Regions from separate parts of the Homo sapiens genome. Here region 1 is linked to region 2. A link means that fine-mapping ties the variant in region 2 to the expression of a gene that starts in the linked region. Tissue or cell type: blood mononuclear cells. Region 2 holds a variant in brackets; the other region holds the start of a gene. Each region is shown on its reference strand, or each on the opposite one. Region 1 holds the start of HGD (homogentisate 1,2-dioxygenase). Region 2 has its middle 19 kb from the start of FOXJ2.

Region 1 (2,918 bases), not on the chromosome of region 2:
TCATAAACTTAGATACACAGGAGATATTTTCTTCGAATTCAGTTTCAGAGTCTGCATGTTATAGGAATAGTGAAAACTTAGCCTCAATAAAGCTAGGGCCTCCACCTACCTTCCTCCTAGGTTTGCATATGAATTCCAGAATAGTTTATATAATGCCACAATGCCATCTGTCTATGCTGACATATGCTGAGGTTTCCTATCAGCTGCCCGGTCCGTAGGCATCAGTCCACATGGTTTGCTACCAGCATGTTTCCTATCAACATGTCCCCTTTGGTCTGGCCCAGTCTGTGCTAGCACCTCATACACAGGCAATAATTCTGCTGCTACTGCAGTATGCTGGAGCCTGGGGACCCTTGGAGGTTGTTTAAGCCCATTTATCTAAAGCAGAGGGTCTCAAACTAGCAGCCTGTGGCCACTTCAAATATGCACATGTTTTTCAACCTGCATGATTATATCAGTTATTTATCACTGCTTAACAAACCACCCCAAAATTTAGTAGTGTGAAATACACCATTCTATTTGTTCCCAATTCTGTGGCTCAGCAGTTCGGGCCAGATTTAACTGGTGGTTCTTCTGCTGGTCTTGCCTGGGATCACACATGTTCTGCAGTCACCTGGCAGCCAGACTGCCTCATTCACATGTCTGGCAGTTCCTGTGGGGCTTGCAGGGCTGTTGCCTGGACCTCTGGAGGCCAGCCCAGCTTCTCTGCACTGTGGTCTCAGGCTGCAAGAATGGGCCCTGTCCTAAGGCACAGGCATGTTTCAAACTCTGTGTCATGTTTGCTACTAGCCAAAGAAAAAGACCCTACCTCTTGATGGGAGGAACAGCAAAGTCACATTCAAAGGGGCACACATACAAGGATAGGAGGAATTGGAGCATTTTTTGCCATCTACCACAGGGTGGTTTCTCTGTCTCTCTCACTCTAATTACCAATGGTTAAAAATTGGAGCTTCATCTTATCTTGAAAAATCAGCTAGCCTACTTTATTCACTTACACTTCCTCCCTCATCTGTTGGCATTTGAGTTGTGATAATGCCTAATTTACAAGATTGTTTTTGTGAAGTTAGATATGGAAAAATCTGACAAAAGCAGAAACTCAATATATGTTTTCTCCTTTCTGAACACCACTAGTCATGAAGCTGCTACCTGCCAATGACCAAGGAGAGCGGCCAAGATGAAGAACAAGGGAGTCATAGAGGAGGTGGCTGGAGAATAATCCCTTGGTCTGTTTTAGAAGTATAGAGGCATTAGGAAACAAAACTCTTAAAGAATTTATAAGAAAACTAAACGTACTTTAAGAAATTAAAAGGAGCAGTAGGAAACATATCAGTTTGCTCTAAGTGAAATATCTCAGGCTCTGAATGGTTCACCCAAGAACCTGAGCTCATTCCTGGGAGGCACCTGCAGAAAACTGGTTCTGGTCCTGGTCCCTGTCTTCAGGTGGCTGTGTGTAAACATCTTACCCCAGTGTACACATCTGCAGCTGGTAAATGCCTGGGGGTTTTCTCACTGCTCTCCAGGAGACTCAGCACTGCCCTGTTCCTTCCTAGCCTGAGTCAGGACTGAGCAGAGAATCCTCCACCACACACAGCAGGCACTATCTGCCACAGTTCCTTTCCCCGATAGCTTCAAATTCTCTGCCTTTTGAAATAAGCCTACTTTTAACTGGAATAAATAATTGGTCAATCTCTACCTCAGGTGAAGAGGAACCAAGCCTCTGGAAACACTTAGGAACAAACTGTAAAAACCAAAGGCAATTGTGTAACCGGTTAAATAAGCTTGCTGGACTTTGTCCCTGTGTATGAGTTAGACAATTCTTTCAGCTAGTTTGAGTGACGCACTGACCAGTGAAGCGCAGTGAAGCAGTGGGAACCGGAATATCCAAAGAGTGGTTTGAAGGAGAAAGAAGCATTGTGGCTTTATATCCTCTGGGCCTGGGTTTCCTGAAGTCACCACACATAGAGGAGAGAGAAAATGGCTGAGTTAAAGGTAAGAAACCATCTGACAAGTTTGCTATGGCTTCTTCAGCCAAAATTTATGGAAGTTTCTGAGAACTTCAGGGTATCAGAGTTGGAAAAGACTTAGAGAGGCCCTGGTTCAAACCCCTGTGTTCAGAGGCTTCCCTGTGGTGTCTGTGGGCACAGCTGGAGCTGAAGAACAAGGGAAAGGTGATAAAGGAAAGAAATGAAGCTCTTATTGGTCATCCCTTGCCTTTGTTCATTTCAATTATTGTCTTGGAAATCTGTAGACATCCTAAGAGCTCCCCTCCACTACGGACATGCACGTTTCTCTCTATGTCTTTTTCCCAACCCCTGCTCTGACACCTTCCCATTGCTGCAGCCTCATGGACCACTTCCGGTGACCAGTTAGATATGCTTGATCTATTTAGTTAATTAAGGCTCTGAATCAGCCCTTGGCCAGAAGAAGCACCTCCTCTAGGAAATCATTCCTTCTTTTTAGTAATACGCAATTGAAAAGTATGTGTGGGTTATGTGCTGTTAGGTGCTAAGCATTTTAGCTATGAATTAACTCATAATCCTCAAAATAAATCTGGGGTATAGAGAGAGGTTCTTGTTTCAATTAGAAAAGTAATGCTTGGAGAGACTATGATTTGCCCAAGGTCACTGCCAATAGATGACTTGATTAGAAGCAGGGTATGTTTGAATGCGAAGTCCAGGCTCAAAAAGGGGCCTTAGTGGCTCCTACTAGACTGGTATCTTAAGGCAAGGAAAACAGAATATGTCCCTAATATCTAAAACCATGCCTAGTGCCCAGGCCAGGCTTGAATCAATGCTCAACGCATGCATGTGTAACTGAACAGAACTGCCCAGAACCTTGGCTCAGGCCAAGTAGGCCAGACCACCCCACAACAGACATCTTCCCTGAATGCAGGGTTTGAGAAGTGCCCTAATGCCCTC
Region 2 (2,918 bases):
CAATAATTTCTAATTCATCATTCAGTGTTTTTCCATCCTTTACTGTGATGACACCCTTTCTTCCAACCTTTTTCATTGCATTGGAGATGATATTGCCAATTTCTTTGTCTCCGTTTGCAGAAGTTGTAGCAACCTGTGCAATTTCTTCAGGGGTGGTCACAAATTTAGACTGCTTTCTAAGTTCAGCAATTACAGCATCAACAGCCAACATCACACCTTTCCTGATTTCCACTGGATTAGCACCTTTGCTAATCTTCTTGAAGCCCTCCTTGGCAATAGAGCGTGCCAGTACGGTAGCAGAGGTGGTGCCATTTCCAGCCTCTTCATTTGTGTTATTAGCAATATCTTGAACAAGTTTAGCTCTAATTTGTATCTATCCTTTAAGTCAGTTGACTTTGCAACAGTCACACCATCTTTTGTTACTTGGGGACTTCCCCAGCTCTGCTCAATAATCACTGTTCTTCCCTTTGGCCCCATCGTAACAGCTACAGCATCGGCTAAAAGGTCTACACCTTGAAGCATTAAGGCTCGGGCATCTGCGCCAAATTTTACATCTTTGGCATAAGCCCGAGTGAGATGAGGGGCCAGTACCCTGGACAGCAGTCTCATCTGGGGAAAGACTGTGGGTAACGGAAGAAGCATTTCTGCGGGGCGGCTGCAGGGCGTGTGCGCGACGAGGCAGGTCGTCGTCCGCAAGTGAGGGTGTTTTACATTTTATATGGCAAGGTAAACCACATTAAATCACAGAATTTTATGACAGCAAGATCACCTAATCCAATCCCTGCTCATTTCGCAGATCGGGAAACTGCTAGTTGGTGACAGAAACGACTCAAAATACAGGAGAGACGTTTTTACCTTACCTTCAGCTGTCTCTCCCCAGAACCCTTATTTGATAAAATGCTTCTCACAAGCTACTGAATGAGTGAGTGGAATGAGCTTTGTTGGAGATCCCAGAATTGAGTCATTCTAAAACATCATTAGAATTATATGAAGTTTCACTTTATTCCACAAGGATTTGTTAGAGTGCCCATTGGCCAGAGGTCTAAATCACAGCCTTTTCCCTCAAGGAGCTTAAGTAGATGCAGTGAATGAATAACTAGCCAATTACAACTTACAGGACACAGTACCTTGAAGAGAAATTGGAGAGGGAGTCAATTCCTAGGATAGCAGAGAGATGGACAACAGACAGAATGTGAGTATTAAAACTGATGTCAGATATCAAATTGGTTTGTCAGGGTTATGTTGATAATCACAGTACCTATCATCTTCCTAAACTTTTCTTGTCTTGATAATGTGTAATATACGTAAGTGGTGGTGGGAGAGACTATTGCAGCCACTAGACTTGGTATATTCCCAAATTATTTTTATTCATAAGTAATTACTATTTGCCATTTGTGGCCTTTTGTGCTTTAATATTATCAAGAACAATAAGAATGATAAAATATTTATGATCAGCATTGTAATTGCAAACAGGCCTCAGTAAAAATTATACACAACTTGTTTTGAGCGAATTTCCTTGAAAAGAACCATGGCTATATAG[G/C]TGTGAAGAGTAACATAGCGTAATATATGAATATACACAATAATAGCTATTCTTTTTTTTTTTTTTTTTTTTGAGACAGAGTCTTGCTCCTGTCGCCCAGGCTGGAATGCAGTGGCGTGATCTTGGCTCACTGCAACCTCTGCCTCCCAAGTTCAGGCGATTCTCCTGCCTCAGCCTCCCAAGTGGCTGGGACTACAGGTGCATGCCACCACGTTGGCTAATTTTTGTGTGTGTGTGTGTGTGTGTATTTTTAGTAGAGATGGGGCTTCACCATGTTAGCCAGGATGGTCTCAATCTCCTGACCTCGTGATCCTCCCACCTCGGCCTCCCAAAGTGCTGAGATTACAGGCGTGAGCTACTGCGCCCGGCCAATTTTTGTATGTTTAGTAGAGACGGGGTTTCGCCATGTTGGCCAGGCTGGTCTGGAACTCCTGACCTCAGGTGATCCACCCTCCTTGGCCTCCCAAAGTGCTGAGATTATAGGCGTCAGCCACCGCACCTGGCCATAATAACTATTCTTATAGAGCAGACTATAGAGTGTAACTGTCATTGTACTTGCATACTCTTTTTTAAATTATTTTTTCTATTCTTTTATATTTTACTTTATTTTATTTTATTTTATTTTATTTATTTTGAGACTGAGTTTCTTGTTGCCCAGGCTGGAGTGCAATGGCGCAATCTCAGCTCACTGCAACTTGCACCTCCTGGGTTCAAGCGATTCTCCTGCCCTGGCCTCCCAAGTAGCTTGGATTACAGTCATGCACCACCATGCCCAGGTAATTTTTGTGTCTTTAGTAGAGGCAGGATTTCACCATGTTGGCCTGGCTGGTCTCGAACTCCTAACCTCAGGTGATCTGCCTGCCTTGACCTCCAAAAGTGCTGGAATTACAGGTGTGAGCCACCACGCCCGTCCTATACTTGCATACTCTGAAAAGACTCACAAAAGGTATTAAGCAACATATGAGCCTTTGGAATGGGTTGGAAGGTAGGATAGACAGCATCTAGTGGTTAAATTACATAATGCCTAAAGTGAAGGATTTGCGACATGTGATCACCTCTGGGAATACTCACTAAGCTTGCTTTCTGGGAACTCACTGGCATCTTAAATGCCTTGCATCTCAGACTCTCAGATTTTTTCCTGAACATTTTAATAGACATACTTAGAGAAGCAGAGCATACTTAGTGAAGGGTAGCAGTTCCTCTTCCTAAGGAGTCAACACATTTTAAAGATGATAGGTTTACATGACAATTGTTAAGACTGTTTTGGAAGGACTTTAGAGGAAGCACTGTAAAAGCAAGATATGAGGCGCGGTGGCTCATGACTGTAATCCCAGCTCTTAGGGAAGCAGAGGCAGGAGGATAGCTTGAGCCCAGGAGT

What was found. PIP is the estimated chance that this variant, and not a neighbour inherited with it, causes the effect.
Region 1: HGD starts here. The variant in region 2 is the best candidate, but not a certain one, in a credible set for the expression of HGD in blood mononuclear cells (TOPMed, PIP 0.50).

Annotation. Positions count from the first base shown.
Region 1 is chr3:120,681,168-120,684,085 of GRCh38, reverse strand. It overlaps HGD (homogentisate 1,2-dioxygenase), which reads left to right and starts at 1,847. Exons shown (of 14, transcript NM_000187.4): 1 at 1,847-1,989. The coding sequence starts at 1,975.
Region 2 is chr12:8,012,745-8,015,662 of GRCh38, reverse strand. It overlaps the pseudogene HSPD1P12. Among named protein-coding and RNA genes, the nearest start is that of FOXJ2, 19 kb to the left of the region's middle. The variant G/C (reference allele first, on the strand shown) is at 1,541.